7 linked regions of the Homo sapiens genome follow. The protein of the gene in region 1 purifies or fractionates together with the protein of each later gene. This does not show direct contact. Each region holds a gene or a part of one and is shown on either strand. Other genes may lie near its edges. The genes, in order: PPP1CC, PLCL2, KIFBP, DNAAF10, TOX4, ADISSP and RPAP2.

The links.
Region 2: the proteins of PPP1CC (region 1) and PLCL2 purify together in Homo sapiens (affinity purification with mass spectrometry; 5 studies listed by BioGRID and IntAct, with this or other methods). This does not show direct contact.
Region 3: the proteins of PPP1CC (region 1) and KIFBP purify together in Homo sapiens (affinity purification with mass spectrometry; 5 studies listed by BioGRID and IntAct, with this or other methods). This does not show direct contact.
Region 4: the proteins of PPP1CC (region 1) and DNAAF10 purify together in Homo sapiens (affinity purification with mass spectrometry; 9 studies listed by BioGRID and IntAct, with this or other methods). This does not show direct contact.
Region 5: the proteins of PPP1CC (region 1) and TOX4 purify together in Homo sapiens (affinity purification with mass spectrometry; 4 studies listed by BioGRID and IntAct, with this or other methods). This does not show direct contact.
Region 6: the proteins of PPP1CC (region 1) and ADISSP purify together in Homo sapiens (affinity purification with mass spectrometry; 7 studies listed by BioGRID and IntAct, with this or other methods). This does not show direct contact.
Region 7: the proteins of PPP1CC (region 1) and RPAP2 purify together in Homo sapiens (affinity purification with mass spectrometry; 4 studies listed by BioGRID and IntAct, with this or other methods). This does not show direct contact.

What each region holds. Positions count from the first base shown.
Region 1 is NC_000012.12:110,732,892-110,737,572, forward strand, and holds part of PPP1CC (serine/threonine-protein phosphatase PP1-gamma catalytic subunit), read right to left. Parts: intron 1-4,681. UniProt on the Homo sapiens protein: Protein phosphatase that associates with over 200 regulatory proteins to form highly specific holoenzymes which dephosphorylate hundreds of biological targets.
Region 2 is NC_000003.12:16,883,142-16,888,272, forward strand, and holds the start of PLCL2 (inactive phospholipase C-like protein 2), read left to right. Parts: upstream 1-1,813; 5' UTR 1,814-1,898; coding exon 1,899-2,225; intron 2,226-5,131. UniProt on the Homo sapiens protein: May play an role in the regulation of Ins(1,4,5)P3 around the endoplasmic reticulum.
Region 3 is NC_000010.11:69,012,803-69,015,142, forward strand, and holds part of KIFBP (KIF-binding protein), read left to right. Parts: intron 1-2,340. UniProt on the Homo sapiens protein: Activator of KIF1B plus-end-directed microtubule motor activity. Required for organization of axonal microtubules, and axonal outgrowth and maintenance during peripheral and central nervous system development.
Region 4 is NC_000002.12:68,133,047-68,137,727, forward strand, and holds part of DNAAF10 (dynein axonemal assembly factor 10), read right to left. Parts: intron 4,388-4,681; coding exon 4,253-4,387; intron 1,754-4,252; coding exon 1,656-1,753; coding exon of another isoform or gene 1,655-1,655; exon of another isoform or gene 1,038-1,654; intron 1-1,037. UniProt on the Homo sapiens protein: Key assembly factor specifically required for the stability of axonemal dynein heavy chains in cytoplasm.
Region 5 is NC_000014.9:21,493,014-21,496,932, reverse strand, and holds part of TOX4 (TOX high mobility group box family member 4), read right to left. Parts: coding exon 3,676-3,919; intron 1,705-3,675; coding exon 1,541-1,704; intron 388-1,540; coding exon 327-387; 3' UTR 1-326. UniProt on the Homo sapiens protein: Transcription factor that modulates cell fate reprogramming from the somatic state to the pluripotent and neuronal fate. In liver, controls the expression of hormone-regulated gluconeogenic genes such as G6PC1 and PCK1.
Region 6 is NC_000020.11:3,757,242-3,761,922, forward strand, and holds part of ADISSP (adipose-secreted signaling protein), read right to left. Parts: intron 2,946-4,681; 5' UTR 2,860-2,945; coding exon 2,841-2,859; coding exon of another isoform or gene 2,766-2,840; intron 1,438-2,765; coding exon 1,295-1,437; intron 1-1,294. UniProt on the Homo sapiens protein: Adipocyte-secreted protein (adipokine) that acts as a key regulator for white adipose tissue (WAT) thermogenesis and glucose homeostasis at least in part through activation of protein kinase A (PKA).
Region 7 is NC_000001.11:92,326,001-92,330,681, forward strand, and holds part of RPAP2 (putative RNA polymerase II subunit B1 CTD phosphatase RPAP2), read left to right. Parts: intron 1-4,681.

The sequences.
Region 1 (4,681 bases):
AAAGTAGCACGGAACTGCTAAATGTACCTTAATTTTACAGTTATAAAGTTCACTTTTGGACCCCAAAATATGTAACTAAGTCTCGTTCTGATAAAAATATTATACAACAAGAAGCAATAAAAGCATAGTAATAATAGTCTTCGAGGAAAGATATGAAACAGATGCATATTTAATAAAACAGCAACTGAGCAACAAAAATGTTTTTTTCGTAAGTAATTTTTTTTCTCTCTAGACACACATACAGAGTTAGAACTCAGGAAATACTCCCGGTGAAAGATGGGATCCCCACTTCATTGGCCAGAAAATGCCAATCATTAGTGATTTCACCATAAGTTAACCAAAAACTTGGGCAGACTGCCCAGCAGGAAGCTTTATTTTTGGCTAGGAAGGAAATCCTAGAAGCTTCTGGTTTCAACGTGAATTTTTTTCAGCAGAGTCCCACACTTATGAATGAATAGCTGACTCTAAGTCTTCTAGGAGAGTATTTCTGCGATAAATAGCTCATACCATATAATGGCAAGCTTTGTTTTATGAATGCTATTGCAGTTAGTCAATGCCATCAGATGAAATCAATGTTGCTAACAATTTTTTTTTTTGGCTTTGGACGCTCTCCACTGTCACCTTTGAACATAGTTTATATTTGTTTTAACTCCTTTATTCTGTTTCTGTTTGTCCTCTGGGTGGGGACATTCAGAGATCAGTAAAAAGCAAAAGCAATACTAACAACAATTTAAAAATTCTTCTTTTTTGAAGAAGCCTGGTGCCCAGGCTGGAGTGCAGTGGCATGATCATGGCTTACTGCAGCCTCAACCTTCCAGGCTCAAGTGATCCTCTTGCTCTGGCCCCCCAAGTGCCGGGATTACAGGCATGAGCCACTGCACCTGGCCTTAAAAATTACTCTTAATATTAAGATTAGATGCAGCTTTTCCAGAGAAAATAAAGATTTGTATTTAAAGAATGGTGCTTATGAAAAACATCAACAAACATGGTCTGAAAGCTTCTTAAATTCCCTAAAATTAGCAGAAAGAAAAAAGTTATATAAAGATAGAAACTGCCAAAACCATCTTCCATCAGTTATCATACAACTGCTCAGACTTCAGGCCTCTGCTCAGATACCACACTTCACCCTGGAGAAAAGCTTCTCTCATCCATCTCCTCTCCCCTCACAAGCTTGCTGCATGCTTTTTGAAAGGCTCTCTCAACATCAGGTCACTACCCACCACACCCCCTCAACCATGCTTGTATTTGTTTTATACTTGCCAGTTTGCTTCTGCCGGCTCATCTGGACCCACTGGTAGAATGTAAACCCACAGCAGCAGTCCTGCTCTGTAGTGTACACCAGCCATAGCCAGCACACAGCAGGTGCTCAAAATTTGTTGCATGACTGAAATCTGGATAAGTCTTTAAGTAGTGTTGACTGGTGGCATTAGAATTAAACATATATTCCAGACTATATATTTATTTATTTAGAGACGGAGTTTCACTCTTGTTGCCCAGGCTGGAGTGCAATGGCACGATCTCGGCTCACTGCAACCTCCGTCTCCCGGGTTCAAGCAATTATCCTGCCTCAGCCTCCCGAGTACCTGGGATTACAGGCATGCGCCACCACATCCAGCTAATTTTATACTTTTAGTACAGATGGGGTTTCTCCATATTGGTCAGGCTGGTCTCGAACTCCCGACCTCAGGTGATCCACTGCCTCGGCGCCCAAAGTGCCAGGATTACAGGTGTGAGCCACCGTGCCCAGCCCAGACTATATACTTTTGATGAGCAAAAAGCCTGTTTCTGCACTATAAAATTATAAAACAATAGGGCCACTTGCTTACCAGGCTTTACTGGAGTATTTTTCAAAGTATGAAAATCTAGAATTACTCTTAAATTTCACGTTGAATTGTCTAACAGAGATTTCAAATGGGGCTTGGCAGTCCAAGTGAACACTGGAGAGTTCTTAAAAGTTGTCATATCAGGCTGGGCGTGGTGGCTGGTTACTGCGGAGGCTGAGGCAGAAGAATCGCTTGAACCCGGGAGGTGGAGGTTGCAGTGAGCTGAGATCGTGCAACTGCACTCCAGCCTGGGCGACAGAGTGAGACTCCATCTCAAGAAAAAAAAAAAAAAAAAAAAAGTTGCCATATCAGCCAAAAGCATACAAATTCACTTCACTATTTTTTTCTTTCTTTTTTTGAGATGGAGTCTCACTCTGTTGCCAGGCTGGAGTGCAGTGATGCGATCGTGGCTCACTGCAACCTCCACCTCCTGGGTTCAAGTGATTCTCCTGCCTCAGCCTCCCAAGTAGCTGGGATTATAGGCGTGCGCCACCGTGCCTGGCCCACTTCACTATTTTCAATGTCCATCAAACAGAATTATTTACTCGTTGTAGTTAACATTTACTGAGCACTTATCCACTAGGCACTGTACTAAGGGCTTTATATTGCCATTCAATCCTGTCAACGATCCTAGGAAGTCAGGCACTGTCATCTCCCATTTTACAGTGACTTAGTCCAAGGTCACAGAGCTTAAGGACACGAGGCCGCGATGCTACATCTAGTGGTGCATTCTTAATTCCCAATTAAGAATCTGTTCTACATTGAACTTCAAAACCAAAGGAGAAGGTTGGGCACGGTGGCTCATGCCTGTAATCCCAACACTTTGGGAGGCCGAGATGGGTGGATGACCTGAGGTTAGGAGTTCGAGACCAGCCTGGCCAACATGGTGAAACCCCATCTCTACTAAAAATACAAAAATTTGCTGGGCATGGTGGTGCACGCCTGTAACCCCAGCTACACAGGAGGCTGAGGCACGAGAATCACTTGAACCTGGGAGGTGGAAGTTGCAGTGAGCCGAGATTGTGCCACTGCACTCCATCCTGGGCAACAAGAAAGAAACTCCGTCTCGGCCAGGCACGGTGGCTCATGCCAGTAATCCCAGCACTTTAGGAGTCCGAAGCGGGCGGATCACCTGAGGTAAGGAGTTCGAGACCAGCCTGGCCAACATGGTGAAACCCCGTCTCTACTAAAAATACAAAAATTAGCCAGGCGTGGTGGCAGGCACCTGTAATCCCAGCTACTCGGGAGGCTGAGGCAGGAGAATCGCTGGAACCCACGGGGCAGGTTGCAGTGAGCCCAGATCGCATCATCACACTCCAGCCTGGGGAACAAGAATAAGACTTTGTCTCAAAACAAACAAACAAACAAACAAACTCCGTCTCAAAACAAACAAACAAACAACAACAAAAAAGCAACACCAACTTAGACCTAAGGATGTGACTTTTCAGTAGAAGTATTAATATTTCTTTATCTGGCTAGAAAGGGAGATTCAGGAAAACGTATTATTACTGTTAAAAGCGAAGGTTGCTCTGTAGAAATGTATCTGATCTATTTTTCTGGCAAATCACTGACACGAGCAATAATAAAAACTTCCACACATTTTTATTGAAAACAAACTGGTAAAAATTTGAATTATAAAAGAATAGCAGCCAGATGTGGTGGCTTGGGCCTATAATCCCAGCACTTTGGGAGGCCGAGGTGGGAGGATCACTTGAGCTCAGGAGTTAGAGACTAGCCTGGGCAACATGGTGAAATTGAGTCTCTACCAAAAATACAAAATATAGCTGGACATGGTGGCGTGCGCCTGTAGTCCCAGCTACTCGGGAGGCTAAGATGGGAGGATCACTTGAGCCCGGGAGACAGATGCTGCATTGAGCCGAGATCATGCCACTGCACTCCAGCCTGGGCCACAGAGTGAGATCCTGTCTCAAAAAATATAAATAAATAAAATAGCATTGGTGATTATTTACAACACCAGCTCTTTCTCATAAGCAATACTAACTTTTGAAAGTTAGCTGCTGGCAAAAAGCAAAGCAAAGATGGAAACTATGGAAGGAAATTTAAGACAAGTTTGAGATTATTTATAAGGAATAAAAAAGTATTTTCCTTGCCACATAAAGGCCCCTTAATTGTTTAAATAAAAACATATTAAAGAAATAGCATATACTAAAAAAGCCCTAGCTGAATTCTAATGAAGTTTCAGAACCTAAGAAAGGCACAAGTGGTATAAAAATAAGCCAACGAAGATTTTGCTGTTTTAAAATAATCCTGTTAAAAAGTAGGTGATAATTTTAACAATATGCCACATCATATTCATTTCAGTGAAATCAATAGCCTCATGATATTTGACAGATTTAGGAAAATAAGACTCAAACCAAAACAAAAAACAGTAAATACTTCCAACATTAAGCATTCCCATAAACGACTGAGTTCTTTTCTGCAAAAAGTATAAACCACAAAAATGTTATCAAGAATCCTTTGGGCCGGATGCGGTGTCTAACGCCTGTAATCCCAGCACTTTGGGAGGCCAAGGTGGGTGGATCAGCTGAGGTCAGGAGTTTGAGACCAGCCTGGCCAACATGGTAAAACCCCATCTCTACCAAAAATACAAAAATTAGCAGGGCATGGTGGTACATGCCTGTAGTCCCAGCTACTCAACAACTGAGGCTGAGGCAGGAGAAATCGCTTGAACCTGGGTGGTGGAGGCAGCAGTGGGCCGAGATCCTGCCACTGCACTCCAGCCTGGGTGACAAAGAAAGACTCAAAAAAAAAAAAAAAAAAAAAAAAGAAAAGAAAAGAAAAAAGAACCCTTTAAGTTTCTCTGCAAAGTCACCAGCAGAAAGACTTCCATGTTCTGA
Region 2 (5,131 bases), on another chromosome or scaffold:
TCCATTTCCTCAGAGGCTCCTTGGCAGTCTGTTACAACACCACGCTAATGAAAGCCAGGTCTTTAAGTTCACCCCGCCTCTGGACTATTAGTTTCTCCTTTGCGCCCTGCGGGGACTGCATTCCTGGAAATGAAAGCACACGAGTTGGGGAAGGGCTGGGGTGCCAGAGAGGGTAGGAAGCTGGAGCCCACGGAGCCTGGGATGGAGAGGTGGGTGGGCCCAGGCCTGGGGCGTGGGGTGGCGGTGGAAGGTCTGGGGTCTCACCCTTCGGAGTTTTGAGTCTTGTCTGGCTCCAGGGAGGGAGATCCAGGGGAGATATTTACGAACGGAAGCCACACGATCAGCTTGGACTTTTAGGCCAGTCACTCCGCCTTAAGTGGGTGCGTGAGAACCAGAAGAGGGACTGGCTGTAGCGCTGCAAGTGAGATCCTGTCCCAAAAGATGAGCCTGACTTAGGCTGGGCCCCGCAGGCCGGCAGGGCCAGCCGGCATCCCTGGTAGGGGAATCGGGAAGGTCTCAATGATAAATCTGTGTGTGGAGACTCAGAGGGCACGAAATAGGCTCTGCTGATGTCCTCTGCCCCTCATAGCCTGCCAGCCACCCCAGCCTTCACCCCTGCCTCAGCATCCTTCCAACTAGTTGAATCAATCAGGAGCCCAAGGGAAAGGAATTGGTCCCAGTGTATGAAATGAGTCTGACCTACTGGGGAAGTCAGAGAGGAGTGTCCCGAACTGGGTGGGAAGGAAACGAGTTCCGTGCGCGGGGCTGGGGCAGGAGTGAGGCGCAGCGGCCGAGATCCTGAGCCCCGGGACCCTTGTTCCGGGCCCCGAGGCCTACTTGGTAGTTGCCCCTCGGGGTTCCGGGTGGGTGACTGACAGTTGCAGCAGCTCTGGGGAGGCGAAGGATAGGCAATGACTTGGGGCTCCCGTCCACTCGGCTTTGAGGTCCCCGCGGCCCGATGACCCGGCCTCGGTGACAGCAGCCGCGACGGCGGCAATCTCGACAGGGAGCTAGGCGGCTCATGGTGGGTCAGGGGGCGACCGAGGAGGGACCACGCGGCCTGTAGGGGGCAGCGCCGAGCTCGGGAGGAGACAGCAGCCGGCGGGTGGGGTGGGTCTGGGCTGCCCCCTCCGGGAGCTGCCCCGGGGCCGCACGGCGATTGTCATACCCGGCCGCCCCTGCCCGCCGTGGGCTTCCTCTCGGCGCCGCGGGCCTTAACGGGGCTCTGAGGGGACGTGACAGAGCTCGGCACGCGGCAGCCTCTGGGGAGTTAGGGTCCGGAGAGACCCACGCGTCGCCCCCCGCCCGCCCGGGGCCGGGAGATCCTCGGGAGCCGCCTCCGCGTGTCCAGAGAGTGTCGGGGCGGCCGCCACTTCCCCTCGCCCTTCGCCGGAGGTGGGCGCCTTTTCCTGCGTGGCGGGTGCTCCGACCCCAGTTGCTCTGAGCCCCGGGGAAGCGCGCCCCGAGCCCCTGACGTGGGCGCCCCGTTACCTCGGGGTGGGTGCCTGGGGCCCCTGAGGTGGGCGCGGGTTGCCCCGGGGTGGGCGCCCGGCCCGCGCGGGTTATTTTTGGCGCCCGCAGAGGCGCGTGTGTTGGGGCGTGTTTTCCTTCCCCAGGTGCCGAGAGCCGGGGCTCCGCCGGCGCCGGAGCTGACTCGTCTCTCTCTTCTTTCCCCTGCAGGAATCTTCCGATAATTCTGCCGCCGCGACTTTAACCGTGCGCAAGGCGAGAGCTCGAAACAAACATCACATCTAAATTAAAAAAAAAAAAAAGCGGAAGAAGCGGCCGAGGCGGCGGCGGGAGGAGAGGAGGAGGGGCCGCGCGCGGCGGCCCGAGGCGGCGGCGGGGACGCGGGGACGCGAGGACGCGGCTTTGTGCAGGCGGGTCGCGGGGCGCCCATGGCGGAGTGCGGCCGGGGGGGCGCCGCCGGCGGGGCCCTGCCCACCTCCCCGGGCCCGGCCCTCGGCGCCAAGGGCGCCCTGAAAGCCGGAGTGGGGGAAGGCGGTGGCGGGGGAGGTCGCCTCGGCCACGGGCGGGCGCGCTATGACAGCGGCGGGGTTTCCAACGGAGACTGCAGCCTCGGCGTGTCCGGGGACGAAGCCCGGGCTAGCCCTACCAGGGGACCCCGCGGCGTTGCGCTCGCCCCGACCCCCAGCGCGGTCGTCTGTACCCTCCCCCGGGAGAGCAAGCCGGGCGGCCTGCCCCGCCGGAGCAGCATCATCAAGGTAGGTGGGAGAAGGGCGCTCATCGCCCACCCTCAGCCGTCCTTGGATTCTATTTTCTCCCTGGGGGAGTGGTGGTGGAAGGAGGAAGCCCACTGCTAACAGGAACCACTGGAGCATGGGTGCTTGGGGTGGTTGAGCGGGGATTGGATGCAAATGGCATGTGGAAAGAATGGAGAGGTGATCCCTAATGTGCAGGGGGAGCTGTGCTCAGACATCCTCAGTTGAACTTGGGGCTGTCACCTCTTCCAGGATTGGTCTGGCATTAGGGCCTTGTACCTGCCGGGGTAGGGCATACTCTTATGTGTAGCCTAGTCTGGTTAACAGACTCCCTGTAAGATTTCTATTGTATCTTAAACACAGATAGGGATTATGTGAAATGTGAGAACATTTTCTTAAAAATCCCAGGCGGCGAACAGAGGGTGAACAGAGATTATTTAATAGGGTTCTTCTGATCCGTATACAGTTAGTTGGCTCTTACAAATGTTTACACTTCGAGGGTGCAAAATCTCCTAATATCCGGTCACTCAGTCACAAAGAAAAATAGAGTAGATTTCTGAACATAAATGCAGATTTCCGCTTTCTTAGGCTCAAAAGCTCAGAGATTACAGTTCCACACGATTTAATCTTTTTCCTTGCTGCAGTAGGCAGGCCTCGAGTACTGTGGAAGTTCTTTTGGGCAGTTTGCTTGGTTTTGCTTGCACAGTGTTAGCGGAAGAAAGCCAGCGATTGTTTTGAGCATTTTAAACTCAAGAAGTAATATTAGGAACTCCCGAGTTTGTGTTAGTTTCATTCTAATGTTACATTTTGGTTCGCAATGTAAAAATATTTTTCATGACATGAAGTGCAAAAAAAAATAGTTGATGAGCTAAGAAGAGCAGAGCCTTAGGCAAGACCAGCTCATTCGGCTCGCTCAAGTTTGGAGCAAATGAAAACATTGCTTTCTGAAAATCAAGGAGTTATCAGGACAGGGAGCAGCAAAGCAAATTGACAGGCTGCACCCACCCTTCCTGTGGCTGATAACTGGTGGGAGGGCAGAACGTGCCACAGTAAAGAGAGTTGGCAGTGGTGGTATCTGAAATTTTATTGGACCTACAGAAATCTTCCAAGTACTGTGAAAATGTCTGATGGTGTTATCAACTTATGCAGTAATCTAGTGAAATATACCATCTTGCTACTCTATGTAAGAGGCAATTGTGAAACTGCATTTCCCTTTGTCATCTGTTTGCGCAGTTTATGTCTGGGCAAGGACACAATTTGAAGGGTTTGGAGATGAAGTGTATTAACTACCTGCAGCACACACGTAGAGATAAACTAAGGAAAGTAAAGTGTCTTTTTGCTGCATACATAGCTTTTAGTGACTTACGTTTTCTTTTACTCTGTAGCTTATGTTTCCATGGAAGTTGCTTTCAACTGTGCATGATAATCAATCCTATTGACAGAGTTAGGTGACATTTCTGTTTTTATTTGTCATAAAATATTTGTGGTGATTTTGCATTGTGGTGTTAATAAAATTTGAGGTGAAAATTCCAAAGAAGATACCAGCCTACCTAATTTTAACCCCTTTCTTTTAATTGTTTTGAATACTTGTTTTTGCATTAAAAAATCAAACTTTATTAGTGTCCATAGTGAGATTCATAGTGTAACTTACTGAATTACAAAAACATTTGTTTTAATTTTACATTACTGGGCGATAAGCAAGAAGGATGATTTGTTAGTATTTCTGATATATGGAATTGGGAACTTGTCAATAGATACCATTTCTTAATTGAAGGCTCTAGAAGCACATGGGGGAAATGATTAATGTTCAAAAATCACTGATTTTAGAAATGATATTGATACTTATGTTGAATTCTGAAACTTTTAAGGATATTTTGTCATTTTTCTTCTTTGTAAAGAAAGCATTTGGCTTCTTGTTCACCAGTGTAACCCTAGATATAAAGTGCCAGGAATGTAGTAGCAGCTCAATAAATTGCTTATTGAATGAATGGAGAAAGTACATGTTTTCTCTGAGTTCTGTTAATTTATAAAACAATTGGTTTTGGATTTACCAGTCCCATATTTTGTTCATTGTATTGTACCTCCAAAGAAGGCTTGACATACTCCTTTTTCTTGCCTCTGTTTTCACTTTGCATTTTCTTAAAACTTTCGAAAATTATGGAAGTAGTGTTGAAAGTTGATCAATACTGGGTTATAGGAAAGAGAGGATGCTATATTTAAATAGGTAACTACTTGGTATATTTCCCTTTGAATTGGTGCCTTGAAGCATCAAGATTTTTGGAATGTATTGTGGTATTTTCTAAAGATAACTTCCAGCATCAGGACAATATCCTAATAGAAAACAAAGTCTTTAACATCAAATTTCATAAAGCAACAAATACTGCACAGATAGTTTTGTCATGTGAATGGCAGAAATTATGTTTCACTTTTGTTTAAAAAAAAAAAGAATAAAAAGCTAAAGCAGAAGCCCATGTGAAAAAGCAATAGTGACATCTTTCCTTGGTTTCCTTATTTTTTTTAATATAAGGGATGAATGCAGTCAGGTGGTCTCTGAGTAGAGGCAGGAGTAGATTAGTAAGCAAGGTGATAATTGGGGACTTGAGGGAATAGCAGGGAGTGAATGCTACCTGGGGAACTGAGGCCGGTATTTATGGGGTTGTATTAGTTGAAATGCTGGGCTTCTGAACTGTGCCTCTCTCCTAGCTTTCATCTTCATTACAGTCTTGACAGCCCTCTTTGTTGGAGATCCTTAAATCAGAGGGAGAATAATGGCCTAAATGTGCTATAAGGTGGGCAAAGAAAGGGGGACTATTGCTAAAGTGCAGGGCATATGCAGAAATACACTGTAGGCTGACCCGAATCTTATTCCTCATTTAAAATAATTTATTTGGTACTCCATCTGTTTTGTA
Region 3 (2,340 bases), on another chromosome or scaffold:
GAATCACTTGAGCCCAGGAGGCAGAAGTTGCAGTGAGCCAAGACTGCACCACTGCACTCCAGCCTGGGTAACAAAACAAAAGAACTACCTGAGACTGGGTAATTTATGAAGAAAAGAGGTTAATTGACTCACAGTTCCTCAGGCTTAACAGGAAGCATGACTAGGAGCCCTCAGGAAACTTAGAATCATGGCGGAAGGCGAAAGAGAAGCAAGCATGTCTTACCATGGCAAGCAGGAGAGAGAGAGAGGGCAAAGGGGGAAATGCCACACACTTCAAAACCATCAGATCTCATGAGAGAGCTCACTCATTACCACAAGAACAGCAAGGAGGAAATCTGCCCCCAGTGATCCAGTCACCTCCCACCAGGTCCCTCCTCCAATTTAATGTGAGATTTGGCCAGGGACACAAATCCAAACCATATCAGTGGTAAATAATATAGAACCTTGTGAAACTACTAAACGAAAGAAAACCAAACAAACAAACCTCAACACATCAGAAGCATAGGTCTTGAAAAGATGAAGATAATTTTAGAGGTCAGAGGGTAAAGAGGAGGCATATTAAGGAAAGACAGGAAGTAGGGAGAATAACTGTGGGGCTTTATGTGTAGAGAATTTGGAGCCAGGAAGAGCTGTCAAGTTTATTCTGGTCAGGTAAAGAAAGCTGGAAAAGGAGGGTTGCAGGGACTATTGGAGCAAAACAGTAGGCTAATTTAAATAAGCATCCTAGAGAGAACATGTAAGTAAACAAGCAGCCCAAGAAGGAAGGAAGTATACAAGATTTAGAGACTTATGATCTACATTTGAAGTAATTGTGTCAAGCAAATCGCACTATGATTTGACCCTTACCTTTCATTTAGTTGATGTTTCTAGTCTGGGAACTTAAAACTTCATCACTTGGTTAGTTTAAACTCACATATTTGCCATGCTACTAAACTACTCAGATTTTCCTTAAACCCAGTTTTGTTTTTTGAGATGGGGTTTCTGTCACCCGGGCTGGAGTGCAGTGGCATGATCTCCACTCACTGCATCCTCCACCTCCCTGGCTCAAGCAGTCCTCCTACATCAGCCTGCCAAGTAACTGGGACAACAGGTGTGTGCCACTGTGCCCGGCTAATTCTTTGTATTTTTGTTAGAGACGATGTTTTACCATGTTGCCCAGGCTGGTCTTGAACTCTTGAGCTCAAGCGATCCACCCACGTCGGCCTCCCAAAGTGCTGGGATTACAGGTGTGAGCCACTGCGCTCACCCCTGACTTTATTTTTTAACCTTAACTTCATCCTTTATCATCTGTATATTTATCTGAAAGACCTTCTTCAGTTCAAGCTTTAAGACATACATAAATTTATTCAATTAAGTATTTATTTATGCCAACCCTGTGCTAGTCATTGGCCAAGGATACTATGATGAACAAAAATGAACCTAGCCTTTAACTTCATGTAAAAGTACAATTTTGCTAAGTTCCACAAAGGAGAGACACATGATATGAGAAGGCACAATAGGAGGAAATAACAAGCAAGCTCTGGGGATGAGTAAGTAGGAGTTACCTAGACTGAAGAAAAGAAGGCACACCATGTCAAGGAGCTGAAGCAACATGTTTAGAAGTTCTGTGGCGTAAGGGAGGATGATATCAGAAGGGATGGAGCAAAGGCTGTGAGGTTGGAGCTGAGGGAGAGGGAGTGTGATATAAGCTAAAGTTAGAGTTAGAAAGGGGCTGGAGCAATCAAGGCTTTGAAGCATTGTTGTCTTCATCTTCTGAGCATTTGGAAACCTTGAAGGGTTTGTGGAAAGATCATTGGTGAGACAGTGTCAAGTGAAAAGAAGAAAAGGCCTTGGGATCTATTATTTATTTTTATTGGCCAAGAAGAGCTTACCCTATTTCTTAACCACCTTAGTTATTCTTTCTTTTTTTATTTGCCCCCCCCCACCCCCAAGAGGTAGAGGAGATAAAACTTTAACTAGGAAGGTAGATTTAACTCTTTGTTCACTTTGATGTCTTTAAGAGACCTAGAGCATTTCTGTCTGATATATTTCACTAAATAACTAATAGCATAAACATGGTAGCATTAATCTTAATGGCATCCTTGTGAAACATTTTTATGATGTAGATTACAGTCTTTTTGTTTGTTTGTTTGTTTCTTGAGATGGAGTCTTGCACTGTCACCCAGGCTGGAGTGCTGTGGCGCAATCTCCACTTACTGCAACCTCTGCCTCCTGGGTTCAAGCGATTCTCCTGCCTCAGCCTCTCAAGTAGCTGGGATTACAGGCGCCTGCCACCATGCCTGGCTAATTTTTTATATTTTTAGTAGAGACAGAGTTTCACTATGTTGGCCAGGCTGGTCT
Region 4 (4,681 bases), on another chromosome or scaffold:
TAAGGGGACTGGCAGAGTCTAACGTGGGGAGGAGACCGGGATGGAAGAATCAGGGAAGAACAACAGGCAGAGGTGCTAGAAGAAGGGAAAGTAGCAAGTGATCTCTCTACCCCACATTCTCCCAGAACGACTCAAACTTTTCCTCTGCTTTTCACTCAGAAACCATATTGGTTGTTTGTTTGTTTGTTTGTTTGTTGAGACAGAAAAAGTCTCTGTCGCTCTGTCTCACTCTGTCACCCAGGTTGGAGTGCAGTGGTGCGATCTCGACTCACTGAGACCTCCACCTCCCAGATTCAGGCAATTCTCGTGCCTCAGCCTCCTAAGTAGCTGGGACGTGTGCCACCACGCCCGGCTAGTTCTTGTATTTTTAGTAGAGACCCGGTTTTGCCATAATCATACTGCTTCGATCTAAAGTGTTCACTCTGGCTGGGTGCAGTGGCTCACACCCATAATTCCAATACTGTGGGAGGCCGAGGCAGGTGAATCACCTGAGGTCAGGAGTTCGAGATCAGCCTGGCCAACATGGTGAAACCCCGTCTCTACTAAAAATACAAAAATTAGCCAGGCGTCGTGGCGGGCACCTGTAATCCTAGTTACTCGGGAGGCTGAGGCAGGAGAACCCCTTGAACCTGGAGGTGGAGTCTGCGGTGAGACGAGATCATGCCACTGCACTCCAGCCTGGGTGACAGAGCAAGACTTTGTCAGAAAATATAAGATAAAGCATTCGATCTGCTTTTTGTCAGCGGTATCCCTGCACACAGTACTTTAACAAGTACTTTCCAACTGTAGCCCTGTTTTTCAGAACCCCTTCCAGCTTCTCAAAGGAGCTAATAGAGAAGAATTTTATAAATGTGAAAGTCCCAGATATATTGAGGATGGTGTTTTTCTTCTTACATTATTAATGAAACTTTATTTTTGAAATATCCTTCATTTATGGGCTTGCTGTTTTTTCCCTGAGTGATGTTTAAGAAAGATATAATTTTTCCCCTCCAAGTACATATTGCTTAGCTAATAAAGTATTCAGAAATACCATTAACTCACAATTTTTATCAGACCTTTAATTTTTGTTTTGTTTTGTTTTGTTTCCTTTTCACAGGCCAACCCTGAGCAATGATATCAGACCTTTTAAATGATCTAGTATCTGTGATGTTAGCGCCCTTGGGATTCAGAAAGTGGTGTGCATAGTAAAAGCTTTCATTGTAACTCACCCTGCCTAGATATGCAGAAAGCAAATTCAGTGATAAGATCTTTCCTGGAGACCAATCAGCAGCCTCAGGCTCTGTTGGGGTCTATCACAATGATGTTATCTAAATTTAGGCAAGGAACCCTTTCCCCATCTTTTAGAGGCAGTGAGTGTTCTAATCACTTCAAGATAGTATCTGATAAAAGTCTTGGGCCAACTTTTTCATACTTAGAAGACACAACTAAAATGATATACTAAAATGTATCAAAAGAAGATTAGTGTACACTCTACTAAGTGTAAAGTATATTCATACAAAATGCTTAGAAAACAAGTTATGTAACACCATGAAATTTTAAATCATATCAAAATGAACTAAGTCAAAGCAGGAAAAAAAAGAAAAAAAAGTTCAATCTAATCCTACTTTACACCCACAGGTAACTTTAAAAGGAGCAGTGTGCACTGGCAGACTTACTACTTCCAGAGGTGAAGGCCGCCGGCGCCTCCAGCTGTCAGAAAGAGCTCCCTGTTCTGCGGCAGGTGTCGGACCTGCCACACAGTAGATTTATGAGCCTAAATAGAACAAGAGGCATACAACTGGTTTATATGCTAAATGGTGCCCTGGAAGAGAAACGCTGCAAATAAAAAACTCTTACAACTATAATTTCAATGGTTATAAAAGTAATTAAGGTTATTTTCTGGCACATCTCTTTATAATGGCTATAGAGATTTATAGGAACACATAAGAAATTAGAAAAAGCATCATTTTTCTTTATTGCTTTATGAAACAAAGTTCTACTGGATTTTTAAAAAGACAGGTATTAAAATCCATTTAAGTTTATAGTATCAAATACTTATGAAAATAGATTTTACATATTTAAATACCTCTAGTTCATTCTGAGGGGGAAAACACTCAAAATATAAAAACATATACTTTTGTTTATATATACGAAAAATGTGGACTGAATTAAAAAAATACACTTTAGTTCTGAGAGCAGTTTGAGGTTCACAGCAAAACTCAGCAATAAGTACATAGACTGAATTTTAACTAAAATTTATAGACCGAAATTTAACTAACAGCTCCCAGAGCCTTATTTTCAATTTATTGCCATTTACCTGTCCAGTCTTCAAAATAAGGACCATGAGGACTTACAGACAATGTTTATGGTCATAATAAGCTAAGGTCTTTATCATTCACATTAGACTAAAAGATTAAAAACCAGCAACTGGAAGGTTAACAGGTTGTTAGCACCTCAAAAGCAGCCAGTAAATCCATCCCGGCGCCACTGCATTAACTGGGGGGAACTTAGGAGAGAGAGAGAGACAGAGGGAGAGAGAGAAAGGAGGCGGGAGGGAATGAATGACTGCTGCTTTGTAGAAGCAGTGGGGCTGGCTATCGTGGTACACCACATTTTAGTGAGTGATTAGTCTTGACCTTTGATTTCAATAGTCTTTTGAGAGAATTACCATTAGCAGATAAAGACTCATATCTCAAAACACACATTTTGAGTGTGTAACAGTCTCTCAGTGATTAGGTTCAAGCTGTCGAAACATTTTATTTTGTAGCTTAAACTTCTCTTCTTCTTCAGGAAGTTGAGAAAAACACAAAAAGCAAGAGGGGAAATGACCTCTTAAAATACACCAGAGTCTTCTATTTGGCAGATTTAGCAATTACTGGATTAACTAAATATAATTTTAAAAAACTGGGCCAGGTATAGTGGCTCACGCCCATAATCCCAGCACTTTGGGAGGCTGAGGCAGGAGGATCACTTGAGGTCAGGTTTCAAGTCCAGACTGGGCAACACAGCAAGACTCTGACTCTATGAAAAAAAAAAAATCTAATTAGCCAGATATGGTGGCGTGTGCCTGTACTCCCAGCTACTTGGGAGGCTGAGGCAGGAGGATCACTTGAGCCCAGGAGTTTGAGACTGCAGTGAGCCATAATCATGCCACTGCACACCAGCCTGGGTAAGAGGGCAAGATTCTGTCTCCAGAAAAAAAAAAAAAAAAAAAGCCAAACAAACAAAACAAAAAACCAGAGATGACACTATTATGTATAGATAATGAAATATGTGTTGCAAATTATACATGGAACAGTTTAGTAAAGTGATTTATGTTGTTGATAGATACTTAATATATTCTGAAATGACAAAAGCAAACCAATATTATAATTTATAGCTATCTTGTTAAGAATTTGGTTTTCATAAGGAAGTGACAATAATTTACACACAATAATAATAATGAGACAAAATAGAAAGGTTCAAGAAATCCTACTGAATCCACAGGAGAGAGAGAAGCAACGGAGTAAGTTCTCACTTCCTGAGCAACTTGTATATTTTAATCTTATGGAAACAAGGAATCTGTAACTGATCTTTCTTTCTTTTTATACTTGAGGAAGTTCAAATCACATTTCCAATCCATTTCTTGTGAATGACAGGACCTTTCTGCATGAATTTTCTGTAATCCCCCCAGTCCAGAAACTATCTTTTTTTTAAACCAGTATTTTCCCTTTGCCCTGCTTTCCTCATCTATTGGTCTAACGCCATAATACCGCATTTCCCTCTCAGCTACCTCAAATGCAAGGCAAAGTTAAGTAAGTAAATATTTTTGAACATTTACTATAATCACAGTACTCAGTGATTCAAATAATTTCATTTAATATAGCAAACTGGAATATAAAACAAAGTGTAATGAAATGACATCATGTACATATAGTTTATTTTGAAAAATATATAACCAGGTATTAGCACAAATATTATATACTTATTAGGAAACACCAGGCTGGGTTTTGTTGATCAAATTCCTAATATCAGCTAGGTTTCTTCTAATTGCTCCTAAACTACAAAATAAGATTCCTACCTGAGATCTTTATTATAATCAAGAAGTCTAAAGTTGATAAACTTTGGGGAAGTACTCTTTGCACAGAAAAACTTGTCAAGATCTCACAGGAATATATCAAAAATAGCTCCCTTCACATAAAGACCTGGAAGAAACCTTGGTGACTAATTCTACTTATCAGTCTAAACCAAGCTATCATTCTTCTTCATAGAAAGACATTTCCCTCATATTTACCTTTTCTGAAACAGAGGCAAAACCTTTGGTTGGATGCTGTGTTCTCATGTCAAAAACATGGAACTTTCCTTCCAGAGATGTGGCTACTAACTTATTCATACTTATGTCTTTTCTGTCAAACTCCAAGCTACACACCTGAAAACAGAGAATACTTATTATTGGTAGTCTCACCAGTATTACTCAGGAGGCTCTTTTATACTAAGTAAAACAGCTTTAAAATGGTCAGATAATGTGAAAGCACTCCAACAATCATTTATCTTTTAACTTTTCCCATAAAAATTTTTTTCCAGCCAGGCGCGGTGGCTTATGCCTGTAATCCCAGCACTTTGGGAGGCCAAGGCAGGTGGATCACGAAGTCAGGAGATCAAGACCAGCCTGACCTACATGGTGAAACCCTGTCTCTACTAAAAATACAAAAATTAGCCAGGC
Region 5 (3,919 bases), on another chromosome or scaffold:
CAAGTCCTATGACAATTATACCAACAAGTTTCTTCAACCCCACCACCACCCCACCATCTCTATGCTTTGCTTGCCCAGACTCCCTTCACCCTTTCCTCTGCTATTACCGCTTATGGTTGAAAGTAAAAAGCATCTCCAGATTACAGCAAATTCAGTGGCCCTGCTCCATAGCCTGGCCTCTGCTGAAGGAAGAAAAGGGGTGAAACATGAACAGCCATCATGGGTTGTGATGAGGCACTACCAGAAGCCCAGCTTGTGTTTCAAAAACAGGCTCTTGGACACTTTCCCAGCAGATAACTCTTCACTGGCTTGGAGAACAGGAAGGACTATTTCACAAACACCACTGTGTTTGAATTTCTAGAGGCTACCCAGGCCAAGAATACATCCCTAAGAGAGAAAAAGACATACACAAACAGAATTATACACAAACTGAAATAGAATTACAGCCTAGATACATTTTTTTTTTTGAGACGGACCTCATGGGTTCACGCCATTCTCCTGCCTTAGCCTCCCGAGTAGCTGGGACTACAGGTGCCCACCACCATGCCCGGCCAATTTTTTGTATTTTTAGTGGGGACAGGGTTTCACTGTGTTAGCCAGGATGGTCTTGATCTCCTGACCCCGTGAATCGCCCGCTTTGGCCTCCCAAAGTGCTGGGATTACAAGCGTGAGCCACCGCGCCCGGCCGCTACATTCTTTTTATCTTTTTTTTTTTTTTTTTGAGATGGAGTCTCGCTGTTGCCCAGGCTGGAGTGCAGTGGCGTGATCTTCTTGGCTCACTGCAACCTCCACCTCCCAGGTTCAAGAGATTCTCCTGCTTCAGCCTCCTGAGTAGCCAGGACTACAGGTGCCTGCCACCATGCCCGGCTAATTTTTGTATTTTTAGTAGAGATGGGGTTTCACTGTATGGCCCAGCTGGATTTTTTATCTGTCTTAAACAAATAGGTTCCCAGATAATTTCCTACAGCATTATGGTGAGATAGTATCACCTTGAAAATATAAGAACAGTGGGCTTAAAAGTCAGAAGTAGAGGCAATGCTAATTTACTGCAGAGTTTTTGAAATAGGAAATAGAAATGCCTTGTCCTACAGCTATAGGAAATTCCCAGGAAAATTTGGGGAGAGGGGTAAAATATTCCAACCATCTCCCCATTTCCTTCACAAATTGCAAATTATTATGTGTTACTTTCCACTTACCATTTCTCCCCAAATTCTAGTTCCCTAAGTAGTCTGATTTGCACCAAGAATTGAAAAGCTAATATTTGCAAACACTAACAGCTTAATGTATTATATTTTTAAAGAGCATACATAAGAGAGGTATGTGGTAACTGAAAAATGTGAACTGCTGATTACATCATCTTTGGCTTATGTGGCAAATGTAAGCTCTTAAGCAGGGGAGCTTTTCTAGTAGACCAGATACAGCAACCTACTCTACCTAAGGTAAGGTGACACTGAGATGCTGATTTTATGCTCAAGATTCCTATGTTTCCCAGTAGAATTGACCAGTAGCTGAATTATAAAAGGGAGAACTGTAAGCTCACCTGCAGTGCTTCACCACACACTCATTGCTGCAGTATTCATTGTCCCAGTCCTTACTCACAATGGGAGGGTTCTCACAACCAGACCTCACACATCGAGGCTGGGGTGAGAGTGCCACAGGAGACCCACTCACCAATTCAACATCCATCTGAGAAGGAGACTCAACCTGTGAGAAGAAGAAGAGTACCAAGGTGGATTAGATTGCTCCCTGCCTAGCTAGCTAGTTAGCTAAATTATCTGTAGAAACCAATGAAGCAACAGGTATTAGAATTCCTCACACTGGGGGGCAAAACTGCAGAAGAAGGTGAGTTCTTGGTCTCCCCTCTATAGTCCAGCTTCAGAACTTTGCCAAGCAGAATGGTGGAAGATTCTTCCCATCAGGAGAAAGGTGGCCATGTGCTAATGCTTTTTTTTCCCTGTTAAGCCTGGCTAGTCAAGCAGTGGGAATAGAGAGGTAGTGTTTTTTGTTTTTTTTTGAGACGGAGTCTTGCTCTGTTGCCCAGGCTGGAGTGCTGTGGCACAATCTCAGCTCACTGCAACCTCTGCCTCCCGGGTTCAAGCGATTCTCCTGCCTCAGCCTCCCAAGTAGCTGGGATTACAGGCGCCCATCACCGTGCCCAGCTAATTTTTTTTTTTTTTTTTTTTGAGACGGAGTCTCTCTCTGTCTCCCAGGCTAGAGTGCAGTGGTGCGATTTCAGCTCACTGCAAGCTCTGCCTCCTGGGTTCCCGCCATTCTCCTGCCTCAGCCTCCAGAGTAGCTGGGACTACAGGCGCCTGCCACCATGCCCGGCTAATTTTTTTTGTATTTTTTAGTAGAGACGGGTTTTCACCGTGTTAGCCAGGATGGTCTCGATCTCCTGACCTCGTGATCCGCCCACCTCGGCCTCCCAAAGTGCTGGGATTACAGGCGTGAGCCACCGCTTCCAGCCCCAGCTAATTTTTTGTATTGTTAGTAGAAACAGGGTTTCACCATGTTGGCCAGGCTGGTCCTGAACTCCTGACCTCAGGTGATCCACCTGCCTTGGCCTCCCAAAGTGCTGGGATTACAGGCGTGAGCCACCACACCTGGCCATATTTATGTCTGTTTTAAAAAATAACGGTATGAACCAATTAAATTTTTCTGCCTATACCCCCTGCCCCACACACATTTAAAACATCAAGCTAAGGAACTTAAGACCTAGGAGAAATGAAAAGCTTTGCATGTCCAAAGTTTAGGATCCTTGGGTAACAACTCTGAATAATAACTGTTTAGGCTATATCCTGTCCAGTTGAACTAGTGACCTCTGCTTAGTTAAGGAGTGGTCTGGGGCAGAAGACTGTCTTAATGTATCTCACTAAAAACACTATGGGGCACACGGTGGCTCACGCCTGTAATCCCTGCACTCTGGGAGGCCGAAGCGGGCGAATCACGAGGTCAGGAGTTCAAGACCAGCCCAATGAACATGGTGAAACTCTGTCTCTAATAAAAATACAAAAAATTAGCTGGGTGTAGTGGTGGGCGCCTGTAATCCCAGCTACTCGGGAGGCTGAGGCAGGAGAATCACTTGAACTAGGAGGTGGAGATTGCAGTGAGCCAAGATTACACCACTGCACTCCAGCCCAGGCAACAGAGCGAGACTCCGTCTCAAGAAAAACAAAACAAAACAAAACAAAACAGGGCGGGTGCAGTGGCTCACACCTGTAATCCCAGCACTTTGGGAGGCCGAGGCAGGCAGATCACCTGAGATCAGGAGTTCGAGACCAGCCTGACCAACATGGAGAAACCGTCTCTACTAAAAATACAAAATTAGCCGGACATGGTGGCACATGCCTGTAATCCCAGCCACTCGGGAGGCTGAGGCAGGAGAATCTCTTGAACCCAGGAGGTAGAGGTTGCAGTGAGCCGAGATCGCACCATTGCACTCCAGCCTGGGCAATGAGTGAAACTCCATCTCAAAAACAAACAAACAAAAAAAAAACAGTATGAGTACCTTGGGTAAGAGAAGTCAACTGCTGCAAGGAACTCCCATCTGCAGGATGTTTTGTGCTCCTGGTTGCTGGGCATTAAATGCTAGTAGCAACCCCCACTGTTATTGGGTCAACCAAAAACATTTTTATACATTTCCACTAGACTAAAGACTTAAAAACAAAGGCTCACCTCAGGAACTACATCTGTGATCATCTCACAGATAGTCTCAGGAGAAGGTGCCTCCACTGTATGGGCCTCAGGGCTGTTGTTCATAGGCCGCTCAGGACTACTTTCCACAGTTGGTGGGACTAAGGTAGTCTGCATTTTCAAAGTGGGTAGAGGCACACTCTTGATCTGCAGAGGAGGAGGCTGTTGCTGTAAATTGATTCGAACTTTCTGAGGTGGAGGCTGTTGCATGGCCTGGAGTGGAGGA
Region 6 (4,681 bases), on another chromosome or scaffold:
CTGGAGGCTGAGGCAGGAGAATTGCTTGAACCTGGGAGCTGGAGGTTGCAGTGAGCTGAGATGGCGCCACTGTACTCCAGCCTGGAGACAGCAAGACTCCGTCTCAAAAAGAAAAAAAAAAGCTGAAATAACACACATCAGAATATTAACCATGGTTATTTTGGGATAGTATGACTGTGGGTACTTTTAAATTTCTTCATATTTTCTCTGTCTTCCAAATTTTCTCATGTCTATTAAGACATGAGTGGATTTTGCAATGAGGGGAGAGAGCTATTTTTAAGTGTTGGTTTGTTCCATTTACTCTCTTGGGGAAGCTGTCAGCTGTAGGACAAAGAGTGGGAACTTCAGAGTTGGACAGAAATGGATACAAACCTGGGCCCCCCAGGTTCTTTTTTGTTTGTTTGTTTGAGACAGAGTCTTTCTGTTGCCCAGGCTGGAGTGCAGTGGCACAATCTCAGCTCACTGCAACCTCAGCCTCCTGGGTTCAAGCAATTCTTCTGCCTCAGCCTCCCAAGTAGCTGGGACTACAGGCGTGCGCCACCACGCTCAGCTAACTTTTGTATTTTTAGTAGAGACGGGTTTCGACCCATTGGCCAGGCTAAACCTGGGCCCCTTTTGAGCAGCGCAGCAGACCCCCCACTCAGGGCCATCTCAATGGGCCAGACCTCCCCCGACCCAAGGGCACTCCTGTTCAACTCTGGACCCCTGATTTATTGACCAACCTGAAGGCCTCAGTCTCCATTTTCCCCAATCCAGCTCCACCAAGCAGAAAACAGGGGGTGATAATACTACTTCAAAGAGCCTAACTGAGCCAGAGATTTGGCAAAGAAGGGTTAAAAAAAAAGTTGCACCTTGTTATTGCCATAGTTAGCTTCACACCTGTATCACATACATACATTCTTCCATTCTCACACCAACTCTAGGGGATGTGATTGTCTCCACTTGAGAGAAAAGAAACTCAGGTGACCTTCCCAAGGTCACAGAGCCAGAATGGCTGGCCTAGACCTGAACTCAGGCCACTGGCACCACAGCCACGACACTGCCTTCCATTGCTATTGTCTGGGTGAAGCAGATGACAGCAGTGGCTCTGCTCATCTTGATCTGGATGACATTCTAAATGCTCTCATCTCATTGAAATCTCACTGCCTCCCATCTGACAGATGGGGCAACCAAGGCACAGGGAAAGGCACAGACATGCCTATAAGCCCGGCTGAGAGGAACGGGGATAGGCACCCAGAAGCCAGGCAGAGCCGGGGAGGGGAAGAAGCTGCTGATGGGGTAGGTGTGCATGTACCTTGACCAGAAAGCTGCTGTCACTCTCCTGGGTGACCATGACCACCGAGTCATGCAGCTTCTCATCAAAGTGGACGTGGCTGTGGGATCCTTCTGCATCGTGGCCTGCCGCAAAGCGGATACTCCGGACTCTGGGCTTGTTGCCTAGGAAGAGTGGGAGAGGGCTCTGAGGGCTTTCCCTGTCCCCAGGAAACTCCTCCCCCTTGTCCCCTCGTCACCCCCAAGACTGCCCTTGACATCATCCAGCTCCCACTGGCTGGGCTCTTTTCAGGGCTAGATGGACACTAGGATCATGAGGCTTGAGGCCTCCCCGCCGGCCCCGACCTGCCCCTCCCACAAAAATCCATCCCCTGAGAGTGAGCGTGGGGGGACTCAGGGACTGGCTAATATGACCCTTGCTTGGAGGGGGTGGGGCTGGTGCCAGAGCCAGGAAGGGACAGTCTTCCAGACTCCCACCAAGCCAGGGCAGCGTGGGACTCAGCCCAGTCCTCTGGATACCCTGCCCAGTGCTCTCCTTCACAGTGCAAAGCTCCCCATCCCTGGGGCCTACCCCTAAGCTGTGTCAGTGCATGAGGCCCCTGCCTGCCCATCCTCATGACCCAAACCTGAAAGGGCAGGGACAGGAACAGGCTCTGGGGGATCTGCCTGGGGTGGCAGAAACAGGGGGGATCAAAAAACACACTCAGGCCACCTGGGCGAGGCTGCAGCTGCCAGTAAACCTCACTGGCCCCTGGCAGCAAGAAGAGAGAATCCAAGGAAGCTTCCAGACCCACCTCAAGACCCCCTTCCTTCCTCTGTCTAGCCCACCATCAAGGCCCTCAGCTGTCTCTGAGCTGGGTCGGGTTCTCCAAGGCCAGAAAGGGCAGACGGATGAGACAGGCAGGGTAGGCGGGAGCCGAGCTGAAGGCCTGGACTGGATGAATGCTCAGGCTGTAGAGGCCGAGAGCACGGCCCTAGTCCTCTCTGACCCCTGGCCCCTAGGCCCTCCCACCAAGAGCCCTGCCCAGGGTCCTCTTGGCGGGAGGACCTGATCCAGCTTTGAGCCGGCCTCTTGGATACTCGGAGGCCCAGGGGACCAGCCTGGCACATCCACAATCCCTGGTGAGCCCCACAGAACCCTCAAATCTCACCAGATCACCCTGGCCTAAAACCCTCCCTTATCCCTTCTGGACTCTGAAAGAAACCCAAACTCCCTTCCACAGCCTGCTGTGGCCCTCCCACATCACCAGTCTCAGTGCTCACCATAAGCCCCTCGGCTCCCCCAACCCCCACAGTGGAACGGCAGGGACACAAGAGCACACACCTCCACAGACCAGCCTAAGGAGTCAGCAGGGCTCTGCAGGGGTCCTGCTAGGGCTTGCGTGAGCCCCAGAACCTGGCACAAACACTGACATAGTCCCAATCACATTCGCACACCAGCACACACGCACTCACACATGCACACACACACACACAGGTGGTGCGGGCCCTACCTGCAGCAATGGCCCTCCTACCAGGGCCCACCGGAAGAGCTTGTGCAAGTCCTACCACGCCAGGAAGGCACTTACCCTTGTTGGCTGCAGCCATGGACGCCCTCCCTGCCACGCAGCTCCTGCCAGACACCGCCACTCACGCTCAGCAGCCTCCCATGCTCCAGGGACACCAGCGGGAGCCTGAAGGATAGGGAGTGGGGAGGGCAGGGGTCAGGGCCACTCATGGACCCATGGCTCAGGGACACCAGAGGAGCTCCCTTTAGGAAGGACTCAAACCCCTACCGCTCTCAGCAGCCCAAGTGGTGCCTGTACTCTCTAGCACGGGGGCTTCTGCCCACCCTCTACCGACTGCCCACATTCACCAAGAGCCCTCACCCCTTCCTGATACCCCAGTGACTCAGGGTCCTGCCAGCATGTGCTGAGCTGCAGCTTCTAGGTGCCAAAGCAACAGCATAGGACTCCTATCCCCAGCACCCCCAGAGACTGGCAGGAGGGGCAGCCTGGAAAGGAGGACTTTATTGGTATTTTCCAGGGACCAGTTCTGGTGCTGCTGACCCCAAAGGCTGGGCCTGGAGCTACCTTATTCAGGTCACACAAGCAATGCAGCTGGGTGCGGTCAGAGGCAACAGGGTGCTCGATGGTGGGCAAGAACAGGGGACCACATAAAGTAAGCGTGCCCTTAGAGCTTTCCCTCCTGGTGATCGGTCAGGGCCATATGCAAAACAGATGCCTGTGGAGGGGGTGTGCCCCCACCTGAACCCCATTCAGACCCTGCCCTGAGTCTCAGGCCTGCCTCCGCCTCAGCTCCCCAACGGCAGCCTCAGCACAGGGGCAGTGAGAGGCGCCCCAGGAAGCCTCCAATGGGCCGAGCTGGGACCATCTGAGCATCAAAAAGAATAATGAGTGCAACTGATGGAAACAGATGGAACACATAAAAGCAGTGCATTCACAGAGATTATTAGAAAAGAAGAGAGAAAGCAAAACAAACAAACCCAAGCCCTCAAAAGCCCTCATTTGTCACCACTGACGGTAGCAGTGCCCTCTTTACTCTGAAAGCTGAGGATTAAAGAGGAAGAATTCAGCCTGTCTCTTGGCCTTTCTTGTAACCAAATTGCCCTGGTGGTTGATGGAAAGCTCTTCTTTCGGAAAGAATTCTTGCTAATAAATAACAAAGAAATGACCAAATGCTAAGTCATTCTGCAACCCCTAAAGGAACAAATGCTGGAGGCAACAAGAACCAGTGGATGCTAAACCAGAGGGGAAGGTTGACAGGAAGCAGATACTCACAGGCGCCCAAGCGTCACTGACAGAGGACCTGGTATGGTTTTTGTTTTTTTTTTTTTTCTGAGACGGAGTTTCACTCTTGTCACCCAGGCTGGGATGCAATGGCACGATCTCGGCTAACTGCAACATCTGCCTCCTGGGTTCGAGCGACTCTCCCACCTCAGCATCCCGAGTAGCTGGGACTACAGGCGCCCGCCACCACGCCTAGCTAATTTTTGTATTTTTAGTAGAGACAGGGTTTCACCATGTTGGCCAGGCTGGTCTCGAACTCCTGACCTCAAGCAATCCGCTCACTTCGGCCTCCCAAAGTGTTGGGATTACAGGTGTGAGCCACCATGCCTGGCCGAGGACCTGGTGTTTAAGAGGAATGGCACAAGTTTGCAATGGAGGTATGTGACTTCTCCCAGTCACACACTGGTCTATCTCTCTACTCTCTGCAGGACAGCCTGTCACACTGATGCCTCCTGAAGTAAGGCAGCCCAAAGTCACAGCATCACTGACAAGGGATTCCTGCCAAAAAGGTTTAACCTGGAATCTAAACCAGCCTCTAACTTCAACTTCTCATTTGCTAAAAACACAGAGGAGAGGGGAACAAATTTAATGACTCCATGAGAAAGCAATGAGACGAGCCC
Region 7 (4,681 bases), on another chromosome or scaffold:
ATTTATCTCTCTGCTAATATGCGTATGTATTTCTGAAGTATCTAGGACTGGGAATGGTGGGTTATCGTATATGCATATATGCAACTATACTAGATAATGCCAAACAGTTTTCCAAAGTGGTTGTACCGGTTTACAGTTCCACTACTACTATATGGGAGTTTCCTTGATTCCATGTCCTCCCTGGTACTTGATATAGTTAGTTTTAGCCATTCTGGTAGTATTGGTTTATGATTATAATACATTACTGTGATGATGAATAAATTCAGCACTATTTTATTTGCTTATTGACCACTTGGATAATCTCTTAGGTCAGGTCTGCAGATCTCTCAGCCATGGATACCAGCACCTGCTCTGGTGGAGATGGCAGGGGGGTGAAATGGATTCTGTGAGGATCCTTGCTTTTGGTTGTTTAATGTACTATTTTTGTGCTGGTTAGCCTCCTGCCAGAAGGTGGCACTTTCAAGAGAGCATCAGTTGTGGTAGTATAGGGAGGATCAGGCTGTGGGTAGGGCCGTAGAACTCCCAAGAATATATGCCCTTTGTCTTCAGCTACCGGAGTGGGTAGGGAAGGACCGTCATGGGGGCAGGGCTATGTGCGTCTGAACTCAAGACTCCTTGGGCAGGGCTTGCTGTGGCTGTTGTGGGGGATGGGAGTGTGGTTCCCAGGTCAGTGGAGCTATTCCAGGAAGATTATGGCTGCCTCTGCTGTGTCATGCAGGTTGTCAGGGAAGTGGGGGAAAGCTGGTGGCAGGCCTCACCCAGCTCCCATGCAACCCAAAAGACCAGTTTCACTCCCACCATGTCCCTTCAAACAGCACCAAGTTTGTTTACAGGCAGTGGGCAGGAAGGGCTGAGAACTTGCCCCAGGCTACCAGCCTCTCACCTGTGAGAACAAGTAGGGCTTTCACATCTCCCAGCCTGTGGAGTCTGCACACCAGATTCACACCCTCCCTTGAGTTCTGGCCAGGAGACTTCCTGTTCATTTGGAATTGTTACAAAGTTCAGCTGGCCTATCATATGGTCTATCTCGGAGACTGTTCCATGTGCTGATGAATAGAATGTATATCCTGCTGTTGTTGGGTAGAATGTTCTGTAAATATCTGTTAAATCCATTTGTTCTAGGGTATAATCAAAATTATATCAAATATTCTCTCAGACCACAGTGGAATTTTTTAATTTCTACTTAGATTTCATTGTTGACCTAGTGATCATTCAGGAACAGGTCTTGATGACCTGTCTAGTGCTGTCAGTGGAGTACTGAAGTCCCCCACTATTATTGTGTTGCTTTCTATCTCATTTCCTAGGTCTCGTAGTAACTGTTTTATAAATTTGGGAGCTCCAGGTTTAGATGCATATTTATTTAGGATTGTCATATTTTCCTATTGGACTAGTCCTTTTATCATTGTATAATGTCCCTCTTTGTCTTTTTAAACTGCTGTTGCTTTAAAGTTTGTTTTGTCTGATATAAGAATAGCTACTTCTCACTTTTGGTGTCCATTTGCATGGAATATGTTTTTCCACCCTTTACCTTAAGTTTATGTGAATCCTTATGTGTCAGGTGAGTCCCTTGAAAAGCAGATACTTGGTTGGTGAATTCGTATTAATTTTGCCATTCTGTATTTTTTAAGTGGAGCATTTAGGCCATTTACATTCAATGTTAGTATTGAGATGTGAGGTACTATTCTATTCATCGTGCTATTTGTTGCCTGAACAGCTTTTTTTTTTTCATTGTCTTATTGTTTTATAGGTCCTGTGAGATTTATGCTTTAAAGAGATTCTATTTTGGTATTATTTCCAGGATTTGTTTCAAGATTTATCGCTCCTTTAGCAGTTCTTGTAGTGCTGACTTGGTAGTGGTGAATTCTCTCAGAATTTGTTTGTCTGAAAAAGACTATCTTTCCTTCATTTATGAACCTTAGTTTCGCTGGATACAAAATTCTTGGCTGACAGTTGTTTTGTTTAAGGAGGCTAAAGATAGGACTCCAATGTCTTCTAGCTTATAGGGTTTCTGCTGAGAAATCTGCTGTTAATCTGATAGGCTTTCCTTTATAAGTTATCTGATGCTTTTGCCTCACTGCTCTTAAGATTCTTTCCTTCATCTTGACTTTCGATAACCTGATGACTATGTGCCGGGGCAATGATCTTTTTATGATGAGTTTCCCAGGTGTTCTTTGAGCTTCTTGTATTTGGATGTGTAGGTCTCTAGCAAGGCTGGAGAAGTTTTCCTTGATTATTCCCTCAAATATGTTTTCCAAACTTTTAGATTTCTCTTCTTTCTCAGGAACACCAATTATTCTTAGGTTTGTTTGTTTGACATAATCCCAAACTTCTTGGAGCCTTTGTTCATTTTTTAAATTCTTTTTTCTTTGTTGGACTGGGTTAATTCAAAAGCCTTGTCTTGAAGCTCTGAAGTTCTTCTACTTGCTCAATTTTATTGCTGAGACTTTCCAGTGCATTTGCATTTCTCTAAGTATGTCCTTCATTTCCCAAAGTTGTGATAGTTTTTTATTTATGCTATCTATTTCACTGGAGATTTTTCCATTCATATCCTGTATGATTTGTTTGATTTCTTTAAGTTGGGCCTCACCTTTCTCTGGTGCCTCCTTGATTAGCTTAATAATTGACCTTCTGAATCCTTTTTCTGGCAATTCTGAGATTTTGTCTTGGTTTGGATCCATTGCTGGTGAGCTAGTATGATGTTTTGGGTTGTTAAAGATCCTTGTTTTGTCATATTACTAGAATTGTTTTTCTGGTTCCTTCTCATTTGGGTAGACTGTGAGAAGGAAGATCTGGGACTCAAGGGCTGCTGTTTAGATTCTTTTGTCCCACAGGGTGCTCCCTTGATTTGGTGCTCTCCTCCTTCCCCTAGGGATGGGGCTTCCTGAGAGCCAAACTGCAGTGATTGTTATTGTTCTTGTGGATCTAGCCACCCAGCAGAGCTACCAGGCTTCTGGCGGGTACTAGGGAGTGTCTGCAAAGGGTCCTGTGATGTGATCCGTCTTCAGCTGTGGATACCAGCACCTGCTCCAGTGGAGGTACAGGGGAGTGAAGTGGACTCTGTGAGGGTCCTTAATTGTATTTTTTTTAAGTGCGCTGGTTTTGTGTTGGTTGGCCTTCAGCCAGGAGGTGGTGCTTTCAAGAGTGCATCAGCTGCAGTAGGATAGGGAGGATACAAGCTTGCTCTGGGGTCAGGCAGTGGGTAGGGCCATAGAGCTCCCAAGAGATTAAGTCCTTTGTCTTCGGCTACCAGGGCCAGTAGAGAAAGACCATCAGGTGGGGGTACCATTGTGTGATTCCCAGGCCAATGGAGTTATGTTCCCAGGTGGATTATGGCTGACTCTGCTGCATCACACAGGTCACTAGGGAAGTGGGGGAAAGCTGGCAACCACAGGCCTCACCCAGCTTCCACACAGCCTGCAGCCTAAAAGGCCAGACTCACTCCCACCGTGCCCCCACAACAGCACCAAGTTTATTTCCAGGCAGCTGATGAGCAGGGCTGAGAACTTGCCCCAGGCTACAGGCCTCCCAGCTGAGAAAGCAAGCTGACTCACAGTTCCTTGCCTTTTCTGGTATGTTTCTGCGGTAGTTCTTGGAGCAAAAGTTCATGATGGGAGTCTCCACATGCCGCTCTGTCTGACCAAGTGGGAACTGCAAGTTAGTCCTGCCTCCTATCTGCTATTTTTTCCCAGACCTAACATTTATTTTTAATATTAAACCAACTTTGCATTCTTATAATAAACTCAACTTGATTGAGCTATAATAGCCTTTTTATATAATACTGGATTTGGTCCTCCTAATATTTGCCTTAGAATTTTTGCACATATTTTCAGAATGAGTGACATTAGCGTATGAATTGGTCATGGTCTCATCATAAATCACATGGTACAAATTAAGTAATCTGAGGAAAGTTTAATTATAGGACTGTTTTCCAAAGCGTGAAAATGTGGTCAGAATGAAGGAAACCAAAGGAATGATACACTAATCATAGTTTGAGAGCCCTCACCACCCCTAGACCTCAAGGAAAAAGGTAGGAGTGGACCACAAGGTCTTGTACCAAGGAAGTGCTGCTTGTAGTGGACCAAGTGGGAATGACTCTTCTGCACCGTCCAGTTTCTTATTCTTCATTGGCAAAACTGAGATAAAAGCCAGAGAGCAAGGAAGCCCATTGATGCAGCCCATACAGATCAGCCTTCTGAAGTACAAAGACAGGTGGAAAAGGGTGAAAATTGTTCAGAATGAAGATACCTTGCACTGCCTATAATTTTCCTTTCTTGTAATATCGTTATCAGGTTTTGGTTGTAATCATTTGGTAAAACAAGTTGGGAAATGTTCCCTCCATTTCTGGAAGAATGTGTCTAAAATTAATGTTAGTTCTTTAAATGTTTAGAAGATCACTCATTGAACTATCTTTTCCTCTGATTTTCTTTGTGGGTTGTCAATTTTTTTTTTTTTTTTTTTTTTTTTTTGAGATGGAATCTTCTCTGTTGCCCAGTCTGGAGTGCAATGGTGCCATCTTGGCTCACTGCAAACTCCACCTCCTGGGTTCGAGCGATTTTCCTGCCTCAGCCTCCCAAGTAGCTGGGATTACAGGCACCCGTGCCATGCCTGCCTAACTTTTGTATTTTTAGTAGAAACACAGTTTCACCATGTTGGCCAGGCCAGGTTGGTCTCGAACTCGTGA